Homo sapiens: one gene and its partner. The protein of the gene in region 1 interacts with the protein of each later gene in a pairwise test. Each region holds a gene or a part of one and is shown in the gene's direction. Other genes may lie near its edges.

Region 1 (4,829 bases):
TAGTACGCTTTGACTCTCAGTATCTTCCTGTCTGTCTCTCTGGTTTTGGGGACAGTGAATTGCCCTGTGACCTTCCTTCTCTGATGGACCTAGGAGTAGTTGTTGATTTTCTGTTTGTTCAGCTTTTTGTTTCTTATTAGGAGGCAGTAGCAACTTCTAAGCTCTTTACATGCCAGATCGGTAGGCAGAAGTTCTACCAACTGCTTTACTTCATTGAACTCTCCCCATGCTAGGAGGTTTAGGTACTGTTACTATAACTGTTATACACATCAGGGAATAGCAGCTTAGTGAAGTTAAATATCTTGTCCAAGATCCCACACCACAGCCTTAAACTCAGCACTCTGCCTCTTCAGTGTGTGCCTTTCTTCACTGTATACTTCCTTCTCCATGAAAAGTGTGGTTTTTGAAGTCAAAAGGCTGAGATTCAAGTCATTTAACTTCTAAACCTACCCCATGATTATTTATAAAATTACCAGTAAATTCCTATCCTGTCTATGTGACTGAACTAATATGTGGATCAGATGAAAAAGTGAATATGAAATTGCCTTTTGAACTAAAACTCATAGTCCAAATACATGAAAGTTTCTTTGTACACTTACATCTGAAACAGCATTGCTGTTGGGTCCCATCCATGTCCTGAGTTCCTTTTCTAGGCTCACCTCTGCCAAGCCTTCTTTCTTCCTTTTGACTTGCTCCTAAGTCACAAAATCTTCCTGGGTATCACATTATCCATTTTGAAGGGAGGACCTCCATTTTATAATTAATTGAAAACATATGAACTGGAACTATTAAACTATATGTGGCGGAGAGTATGTCTCTCTTGGGCCAACATAGGCATCCACTAGAGAGAAGCGAGGTAGACTAGAAGTTTCATGGAAGTCACTGGTTGTGACATGGCCATTGGAGTCATCACTTTGGTAGACTTGGTTCACACCTAGCCAAGCCCTTTGACATATTTAGGAATATCTCTAGATGTAAAGGAGCTCTGTGGAATCTAAGTGGAACCCATGGGAATGCCCTGAGTGTTTAAACTGGAATGCTTTAAGGATTCTCCAGGGACCTTGGGATTACCCCTTACTCGCTCACAAATGGGATCACTGGATGCCCACCCTTTCAAGGTTCCCAGTGTATTGGGGGAAATTTCAGCCAGATATCGGGTAAAATTCACCCCCGATATTTCATGTAGGTTCTTTTCTATTTTCCCTAAGTGTCGGCCGGTCTGAGAAATAAAGGGACAGAGTACAAAAGAGAGAAATTTTAAAGCTGGGTGTCCGGGGGAGACATCACATGTCCGCAAGTTCCGTGATGCCCCCTAAGCCGTAAAATCAGCAAGTTTCTATTAGTGATTTTCAAAAGGGGAGAGAGTGTACAAATAGGGTGTGGGTCGCAGAGATCACATGCTTCACAAGGTAATAAGATATCACAAGGCAAATGGAGGCAGGGCGAGATCACAGGACCACAGGACCGGGGCGAAATTAAAAGTGCTAATGAAGTTTCGGGCACACGTTGTCATTGATAACATCTTATCAGGAGACAGGGTTTGAGAGCAGACAACTGGTCTGACCAAAATTTATTAGGTGGGAATTTCCTCGTCCTAATAAGCCTGGGAGCACTACAGGAGACTGGGGCTTATTTCATCCCTACAGCAGTGACCATAAAAGACGGCCGCACCCGAAGCGGCCATTTCAGAGGCCTACCCTCAGGGACGCATTCTCTTTCTCAGGGATGTTCCTTGCTGAGAAAAAGAATTCAGCGATATTTCTCCCATTTGCTTTTGAAAGAAGAGAAATATGGCTCTGTTCCGCCCGGCTTACTGGCAGTCAGAGTTTAAGGTTATCTCTCTTGTTCCCTGAACATTGCTGTTATCCTGTTCTTTTTTCAAGGTGCCCAGATTTCATATTGTTCAAACACACATGCTCTACAAACAATTTGTGCAGTTAACGCAATCATCACAGGGTCCCTGAGGTGACATACATCCTCCTCATCTTACAAAGATGATGGGATTAAGAGATTAAAGTAAAGACAGGCATAGGAAATCACAAGGGTATTGATTGGGGAAGTGATAAGTGTCCATGAAATCTTCACAATTTATGTTCAGAGATTGCAGTAAAGACAGGAGTAAGAAATTATAAAAGTATTAATTTGGGGAACTAATAAATGTCCATGAAATTTTCACAATTTATGTTCTTCTGCCATGGCTTCAGCCGGTCCCTCCATTTGGGGTTCCTGACTTCCCACAACACCAGTGAGTTGTTGCTTCATTACATCTGGCCTTGACCTGGGCATTCTTTGCATCAGTGCACCATGGCCATGCACAAAATTTTCTGAATCCTAGAAGAAAGGGAGCCATACTGTGGAATCATCTTTTACCTTACCAATGGGTTACCTTTTTTCTTCTTAAATAACATGGCTCAAAGATTGTCAGGGCTGCTGCAGATAAAATGAAATTTCTAGGCTTCTCTTGTGGGAAATAAATAATCAAAGAATTTAGCCCATTTGCTATATAGATAGCAAGTCTTCCAAAATTATGTCTGAAATTTCCATATCTTAATTACTTTGGGGCATAATTTACAGTTTATGTAATCCAGTATATGTGGACTTAATTGTATTTCTTGAAATATGTATATATATATGTATATATATATATATATATTTTTTTTTTTTTCGAGAGGGTCTCACTTTGTCACCCAGGCTGGATGGAGTACAGTGATGCAGTCACGGCTCACTGCAGCCCTGACCTCCCAGGCTCAAGCGATCCTCCTCCCTTAGCCTCCTGAGTAGCTGGGACTATAGGCACAGGCCATTACACCCGGCTAATTTTTGTATTTTTTGTAGAGACAGGGCTGGGCTATGTTGCCCAGGCTGGTCTCGAACTCCTGAGCTCAAGATACCTGCCCGCCTTGGCCTCCCAAAGTGCTGGGATTACAGGTGTGAGCCACTGTGCCCGGCCAATGTGTACTTTCTTGTCCCAGTTTTGTTTTAAAATCGAATTTAGAATTCTCTAACTTGATTTCTCATGATCTGATCCAATCAGGTTCTTTTATCATAGGTGAGATCAGCTGATTTGCCTAAGACCACACCACCCGATAGAGGAAAAGCTGGGAATAGTAACTGAGTCTGTTGACTTTCAATTCAGTGCTTTTCCCACGATGCTGTGTATAATTTTAAATAACTATACTGTAAATGAATCATACAATAATTCTTTTTTTTTATGATATTTGGTCCATCAGAAAAAAAATTTTTAATGAAAGAAATGTCATTTAATATGATATTGATATTTTATTCTGTTATTAGTTTAAATATGCATATACTTTATGGGGGTTGTACAGTAGTCATTATTACCTCATTTTATAATACAATGTTAAGTCTCAAATGAAACTTGTTTTTTAGTTAAAGATTTCCAGAGTGACTCCATTCAGAGTAGAAAAACTATAAGCTGGAGTGTTTTAAGATTGTTCAGTAACCGTTTTTCAGTTCAGGCAAGTCTAACCTGGGATGCTTAAGTTACTTTGGAATTGACTAAATAATTTTCCATCATAATGGATCAAAGAAAAGCTCCTTTGACTCCTCACTGCTCCCTCTTCTTCCTCTCTTCCTCCTAGGAGTGAAGTGCAACCAGTGGTCTGAGGAGGCTTCTATGGTGTTTCGAAATCATGTGGAGAAGAAACCTCTGGTGGCACTGGTGCAGACAGTCATTGAAAATGCTAACCCTTGGGACCGGAAAGTAGTGGTCTACTTAGTGGACACATCGTTGCCAGACACCGATACCTGGATTCATGATTTTATGTCAGAGTATCTGATAGAGCTTTCAAAAGTTAATTAATGACTGCCTCTGAAACCTTGACAACTAATTCAGATTTTTTAGCAATAACAAAATGTAGTAGGCTTAAAAAAAATCTTAACTCTGCTACATGGCTCTGACTGCTGTGGGGGATTGAAAAGAATATGCTTATGTTTGATGAAAGATATTTAACAAGTTTTGTTTTAACAGAGTTGACTTTTCAAAGAAAATTGTACTTGAATTATTACTATAATATTAGAATAAAAATGTTTATCAATATAAAAGCTGACTACCTTTTAATTTCTAGGCTTCATGATCTTAAGATGAAAGCTTCCGTTTCATGTTGTCTTCCTTGCAGAGCTGGGTTCTTCTCCAGTGAAGCTGAGACTATTATGACTTAACTCTACCCTGATGTAGTAGTGTATCTCAAAGCAAGTGATCACCAAAGCATGTGAGGACTTATCCTGAGTCTTAACACATCAGCATTTCTAGAGGAGCAGCCCAGGCAAACCAACGTGACCCTCAACCCAAATCTTGAGTGGCTTCTCTTCTCATTGCCCACAGAGTCCAGCTAGGACCCAGGCTTTCTACAATCCTCCTACCCAACCTCCTTATCTACCACTCCCTGCCACACTGTACCTTTATTTGGTCACTGAACCCCTGCTTATTCCATTCTGTCAACCTGCATCTCATTCTCCTCCCATCATTTTTGCTTGTCAGTGTCCTGCCTGACCTCCTGGGCCAACCATGAAGCTTTCTCTGGTACCCCTTTCTACTCCATCGTACTTTGATCATGCCTCTCTTGGTGCCCATATGTCACTGTGTTTTATAGTATATGACTAGTCTGTGCACCGATTACCCCAGCTAGATCATGGTCTCCCTGAAAGAGGGACGGGTCTTAGTCATCTCCGGTGATATACCAGTAAATGTTTGACAACTGGTTCTGTTGAGTGGGGAGCTGAGCCTTGATTTGTAGTGTCTGAAAATTCTCATATTGTAAATGGTCCCACCATTGTTGATTTTCAGCTAATAATATGACAAGACTGAA
Region 2 (7,299 bases), on another chromosome or scaffold:
TGAAAATAGAAAAATTAGCTGGGTGTGGTGGTGCATGCCTGTAGTCCAAGCTACTTGGGAGGCTGAGGCAGGAGAATCACATGAACCCAGGAGGCGGAGGTTGCAGTGAGCCAACATCGTGCCACTGCACTCCAGCCTGGGTGACAGGCCGAGACTCTGTGTCAAGAAAAAAATAAATAAATAAAAATTTAGGCCAGCTTTTCTCTGCTACTTACCTCTTCTATCTTTTACCAGATGTATTTGGAGAATTTAAACTACTTTTATTCTAAGTAAAAACTTAATGAGAAAGGAAAATGGATTCTAAAATCCAAATATAAATTGCTTTTGTATGATCTGTAATTTTAAATTAACCATAGCACACTCTTTTGAAGGGATAATTGAGAACTGACTTATTAATAAAGACAGGAAGGGAAAATGTCATGTCATAGTGTATAAATGGAGATTTTGATGTTCAGTTCATCTATGTTTTGTTTAGATGTCCCTGGTAGATTTGGGAAAGAAGCTTTTAGAAGCGGCACGAGCAGGTCAAGATGATGAAGTTCGTATTTTGATGGCAAATGGAGCTCCCTTTACTACAGACTGGGTAAAGAATGATTTTAATATTGTGTGTTCTTTTTCCTTCTCATTTTTGAGTTTTTGCAGAGAAAAATGTAGTCAGTATTGTGTTTATAAGTGGTAAAAAGTTATTATTTTTGCAAATGTGTTTATTATTTTAGAATTATAACTGTCCTAAAAGAAGTGGTTTATATTATTTTCTTTGATATTGGACAACCTTATCCAAATATTTCATCCACAAAGAGTTTTTCTTTCAAACTGTGGAGTGCATTAATGTGGCATGAATATAAAAATGTATCTGCTTGGGATTTAATTTAAAGGCCTTATAAATAGCACAGGTAGAATTTATAATTCAGAAAGATACTGATAAAGATTGGAGTTAGTGTTAATAGTCACTCCTAAAAGAAAAACAAGTTTATGTTTCAATTATTACTTGTAAAACTGTTGCAGACATGACGAAAGAGGAAGAAAGGAATGGGAATGAGATCTTGACAACTATGGAAAGAAGGTAGTTGTGGGGAAGGCAAAAAAAAATAACTCTTTAATTCTGGGGGCAAATAAAAAAGTATTGTCTTGTGGATATGGAATGCTAGGAATCTGAATTAACCTGCCCATTGGTAACAACTAAAAATTCCAGATTTTTGATTTTGCCGTTTTTGCCTTTCTTTCTCTTTTTACATTTTTCATGAAAAAACAAAATTTTTTATTATAGAAAATTTCAAATATATATCAACGATATCCCTGTAATACCCTTTACCCAACTTCAAAAATTATCAAATCATGATGAATATTGTTTCCTCTATAACTCTGTCTACTGTATTATTTTTTGTTCTGTATTATTTTAAAGCAAATTCCAGGGACCATATCATTTTATCCATAAATGTTTCTTTAAAGAATAAATAAATCTTTAAAGAATAAAGACTTTTTGATGAAATATTTTAAAGAAAGTCTTCTTAAGTACACTGCTGAATTAGAAAGAAAGAGATTATCAACCTGAAAAACTAAGTGAAGGCAAGAACCCAGAGAAATTTTACCCTAAAGAACATTAGGTGAACTCACACTTGTCTGGTGGTTTTTCCACCTCACTGGCTTGGGGTACTAAAGCTAAAGACCTGAGAGTGTTCATGGAGAGAAGTCTGATAGGAGATCTTATCTCATAATTCTGGAATCCCAAAGAGCTGCACCTTCAGTGTAGGGATAAAGCAGGAATACCCTGTCCCTCCTCCTGTCTGCTCCTGCCCTTGCCCCTGTTGCCGTGATGCTGCAAAGATAATAAGCTGATGTGAACCAAGACATCAAATGGAGAGAGGAAAACAATCTGATGGTGAGAATTTGGAATCACAAGGCATCCTTTTTACACACTTGCAGCCTGAACTCATAAATACTTGTGTAGTCTAAAAAACTGTAAACTGAGAAATGAATTTGAAGTGATCTTTGGACTAGGGATTACCCCAGGCTCTTGACAGAAGCAAATGAATATCTGCTCTGGAGGAACCTGCCTTCATCCCAGGCTTCATATCCACAAATGAAATTCAAAGGAAAGTGAGCAGTCAGAAATAACTAAACACATGAACACATGCCAATTTGGACAGTAATCTGCTAAAACAACTGTCAACAGAAGCAGACCTATAAGGACTTGAGATAAAATTTTAGTAACAGATTAGAAACAGCTAAAGAGAAAATTAGTAAACTGAAAGGTATGAAAAAAAAAATGATCCAGACTATGTCACAGATAAAAATAGATAGAAAATGTAAAAGAGATGTTAGGAATCATGAAGGATCATGTGAGAAAGTCTAACATCTGATCATAGATCCACAAAAAGAGCAAAAATAGGGATGAAATAATTCAAAGAGGTAATTGCTGAGAATTTTCCAGAACTGATGAAAGATGGCAGCCCACAGATTTGAGTAGCCTAACAAATCTCCAGCAGGATCAATTTAAAAACTAATCTATATCTAGATATATCATAGTGATGCTGTAGTACCTCAAGACAAAAAGATCTTTTTTTTTTTTTTTGAGATGGAGTCTCACACTGTTGCCTGGGCTGGAGTGCAATGGTTCAGTCTCGGCTCACTGCAACCTCCGCCTGCCGGGTTCAAGTGATTCTCCTGCCTCAGCCTCCCAAGTAGCTGAGATTACAGGCACCCACCACCAAGCCCAGCTAATGTTTTGTATTTTTAGTAGAGATGGGGTTTCAATATGTTGGCCAGCTGGTCTTGAACTCCTGACCCCGTGATCAGCCCGCCTCGGCCTCCCAAAGACAGAAAGATCTTAAGAAGGATTAGTATCCATAATACATAAGGAATTCCCATGGGTTAGCAATAAAAAGACAAGGCAATAGAAGACTGACTGGATATGGTGCTTTACCAAGGAGAAAGTTTGATCAATAAACATGAAAAGATACTCAACTACATTAAAATTGGGGCAAATGCAAAGTAAAATCATGAAATACTATTATATATCCACCAGATTAGCAAAAACAGTTGAGCAGTACCAAGGCTTGGTGAGGAGATGGTGGGAACTCTCAAATATTTTTGGTGGAAGTATGGAATTGGTATAATCGTTATGGAAGACAGTTTGGCAGCACATAGTAAATTTGGAGATGTGCATAGTATATGATGTAGCAGTTGGGCTTCTAAGACTATTCCCGAGAGAAGACTTGTTCATGTGCCTGAAACATATACAAGACTACTGTATTTAGCAGCAACATTATTCATAATAACACAAAAACTGGAAACAATCTAAATGTTCATCAGTAGATTGGTTAAATTAATTGTGGTTTACTCATTCAATGGAATATTATAGAACACAGAAAATTAGTAAGCTATACTTACAGTTATTAACATGGTGAATCTCATGAATACAGTGTCAAGCAAAAGAAGGCAAGTCACAGAGAAATACATGCAGTATAATTCTGTTTAAATAAAACTCAAAACAGGCAAAACCAAAGTATATTTTTTAGGGATAAGTGATACAAAGAAAACTAAGTAATGCTTGTCACAAAATTCAAAATATTAGTTACCTCTGGGGCTGGGGGAGGGGCTTGTGATCAGGGAGTGGCATGTGGGAAGATTTTTTTTTTTTTTTTTTTGAGACAGAGTTTCGCTCTGTTGCCCAGGCTGGAGTGCAGTGGCATGATCTTGGCTCACTGAAGCCTCTGCCTCCCGGGTTCAAGTGATTCTCCTGCCTCAGGCACCGAAGTAGCTGGGATAACAGGCGCCCACCCTCACACCCAGCTAATTTTTTATTTTTAGTAGATGAGGTTTCACCATGTTGGCCAGGCTGGTCTCGAACTCCTGACCTCAGGCAATCCACCTGCCTTGGCCACCCAAAGTGTTGGGATTACAGGCGTGAGCCACTGCGCCTGGCCAGATTTTAAATTACTGGCAGTGTTTTATTTCTAGACTATGGTGTTGATTCACAGGTGTTTGCCTTAAACTACATATATTGGCTGAGCACAGTGGCTTACGCTTGTAATCCCAGCACTTTGGGAGACTGAGGTGGCAGATTATTTGAGGCCAGAAGTTCAAGACCAGCATGGGCAACATAGACCCCATCTCAAACAAAAAGAAAAAAATTAGTCAGGCATGGTGGCTCAGCCTGTAGTCCTAGCTACTCTGGAGGCTGAGATGGGAGGATTGCTTGAGCCTAGGAGTTAGAGGTTACAGTGAGCTACGATAGCTCCACTGCATTCTAGCCTGGGCGACAGAGCAAGAAGCTGACTCTAAAAAAATGAATAAAAAAAAACCCAAAAAGCTACAAAAACTACATGGCCAGGTGTGGTGGCTCATATCCATAATCCCAGCACTTCGGGAGGCTGAGGGAGGAGGATCGCTTGAGCTCAGAAGTTTGAAGGTACAGTGAGCTGTGATCACCCCATTGGACTCCAGCCTGAGTGACAGAGTGAGACCCTGTCTCAGAAAAAAACAAAAAACCCTGCATATATGTATATATATTTTGTGTCAATAACCAAGAAGGGAAAGTCTCAGAAGACAAAAATAAAAAAGTAGATCCTAATGTCAAACTGAGCAAAGCTCCTGGTTGCTAAATGGGCTGTTGAGATATTTTCATTAAATACTGAAATTTAAGAGTATAGAAAAGGCTAGTTAAAGAAAAATTGACAAAGCATGGAGAAAGAAAGGATTGTTTAAGGATCTTCTTTGATCTGCTGGGATGACCTTCTCTTAAAAATGTAAGGTTTAGCTGGGTTTGTTGGTGTGTGCCTGTAGTCCCAGCTACTCTGGAGGCTGAGGTGGACAGATTGCTTGAGCCCAGCAGTTCAAAGCTGTAGTGTGTGATAATTGTACCTATGAATATCCATTGCACCCCAGCCTGGGCAACACAGTGAGGCCCTGTCTCTAATTAAACAAACAACAATTAAACAAACAAACAAACAAAAAATATATCTATCTCTCTATCTATAGATAGATAGATAGAGAGATAGGACTAAGGACCTTTATACATATATCTCACTTAATCTCTTCATAACATAATAAACTGTTTATATGTGTAAATTTCCTTAGTCCAAATATCTTAGTTCTTTGGAATATCAAGTGATGTGGTAATCAGAGGGTTATAGGGATTTTCTGTGCCTTTAAATGCATGTGATAGAACTTAATCTTCCTTCCCTCACATTTTAGTACTCCCTCTGTGTATTGTGGATGTCAATTTAATGACTAGACCACATGGAACCAATTTCAGGAGAATTGGGCTCTGTTTTGGTTTTGTCCTGATTCAACTTTGGCAAATGCACCTAAGATTTTTCCTTTGAAAAAAATCCCTTTAAAAAGATCACTGAGATGTTTCAATACGTGAATTTTTTAAGACCTACAAAACAATTTTGATCCACTTAAAGTAAAAATGTACACTGTTACATTTATTTGAGATGAATTTTACAGACGAAGTTAACTTAGCAAGTTTTGTGTGATTGGTATGAGGAATACATTCTAATACACAGAAAAATTTCTCAAACTCTATCTCTGATTTCTTTTTTTTTTTTTTTTCTTTAGACCAAAATCTCGCTGTGTCACCCAGGCTGGAGTGCAGTGGCGCGATCTCGGCTCACTGCAACCTCTGCCTCCTGGGTTCAAGCGATTCTCCTGCCTTAGCCTCCTGAGTAGCTGGGATTACAGGCACATGCCACCACGCCTGGCTAATTTCTGTATTTTTAGTAGAGATGGGGTTTCACCATGTTGGCCAGGGTGGTCTTGAATTCCTGACCTCAAGTGATCCACCCGCCTTGGCTTCCCAAAGTGCTGGGATTACAGGCGTGAGCCACCACGTTCGGCCTCTATATCTTAATTTCTAATGAAATTAATTTTGTTCAGGCAGTTTATCTGATAAAAAATAATGAAGAAAGAAAGTTTGAATTAAAGGAAATACTGGATTTTCTTCTTCATTGAGAGTGTTTGGGAATTCTTCAAGATGTCTATGAAGAGGATGTGATAAGCATGAATCTAGGCATTTCTTTTGAGTTTTGAGTTGCTATGTAAACAGATAATGTAAAGAAAATCTGTTTACTATATAAACAGAAGTGTAGTAACAATAATGTAAATGTGGATTTTTTTTTTTTTCTGTGGTACAGCTGGGAACTTCTCCACTTCATCTAGCAGCACAGTATGGTCATTATTCCACCACAGAGGTACTGCTGCGAGCTGGTGTGAGCAGAGATGCCAGAACCAAAGTGGACCGAACACCATTACATATGGCAGCTTCTGAGGGCCATGCCAGCATAGTAGAGGTTTTACTTAAGGTATGTGTTCTCTTTTTGCACTTTGCTTTTAAAATACTTTACGGTTTTATAAGAAGGAGAGGGAACTAGTTTTTGTTAAATGCCTACTTAGTATTTTATCTATAGTATTTCATTTTTTGTGTGTATAAGCCCATTAAATGAAAATTGTCTTATAGCTTTCATTTCATGAGGGACAAAACTTCATTTAGGTATATTCTTAGTTAAATCAGCTAATTGATTTCTTGGACCTTGGTCTATCTTATGATGAGGGACTACAGCATTTTTTCTTTTTGTTTTTTTTTTTTTTTTGAGACAGAATCTCTGTCACCCAGGCTGCAGTGCAGTGGCACGATCTCAGCTCACTGCAACCTCCACCTCCTGGGTTCAAGTGATTCTCCTGCCTCAGCCTCCCGAGTAGCTGGGACTACAGGCGCCCACCACCATGCCCAGCTAATTTTTGTATTTTTAGTAGAGATGGGGTTTCACCATATTGGCTTGACTGGTCTCGAACTCCTGACCTTGTGATCCGCCTGCCTTGGGCTCCCAAAGTGCTGGGATTACAGGTGTGAGCCACCATGTCCGGCCCTTAATTTTTTGTATTGTAGAGATGGGGTTTTGCCATATTGCCCAGGCTAGTTTCAAACCCCTGAGCTCAGCTGATCCAACCGCCTCGGCCTCCCAAAGTGCTGGGATTACAGGCGTGAGCCACTGCACCTGGCCTGGAACATCTATTTAACATATACATATAAATAATTGACTACATTATTTGTTCTTGCTTTAAAGCACAGAACTAATAATTTCATATCAGGAATTTTTTATGTGATATTTCATATTTTAGTAAACTCTTTGAAATATTTTTGTAGCATGGTGCTGATGTCAATGCAAAGGACATGTTAAAGATGACAGCTCTCCATTGGGCCACAGAACACAATCATCAAGAGGTGGTGGAACTTTTAATCAAATATGGTGCTGATGTACACACGCAAAGTAAATTTTGTAAAACTGCATTTGA

Evidence for each region.
Region 2: the proteins of TDRD7 (region 1) and GABPB1 interact in binary tests that used the Homo sapiens proteins (3 or more experiments, as listed by UniProt).

What each region holds. Positions count from the first base shown.
Region 1 is NC_000009.12:97,492,061-97,496,889, forward strand, and holds the end of TDRD7 (tudor domain-containing protein 7), read left to right. Parts: intron 1-3,602; coding exon 3,603-3,823; 3' UTR 3,824-4,065; downstream 4,066-4,829. UniProt on the Homo sapiens protein: Component of specific cytoplasmic RNA granules involved in post-transcriptional regulation of specific genes: probably acts by binding to specific mRNAs and regulating their translation.
Region 2 is NC_000015.10:50,302,975-50,310,273, reverse strand, and holds part of GABPB1 (GA-binding protein subunit beta-1 isoform beta 2), read left to right. Parts: intron 1-475; coding exon 476-583; intron 584-6,140; coding exon 6,141-6,308; intron 6,309-7,150; coding exon 7,151-7,299.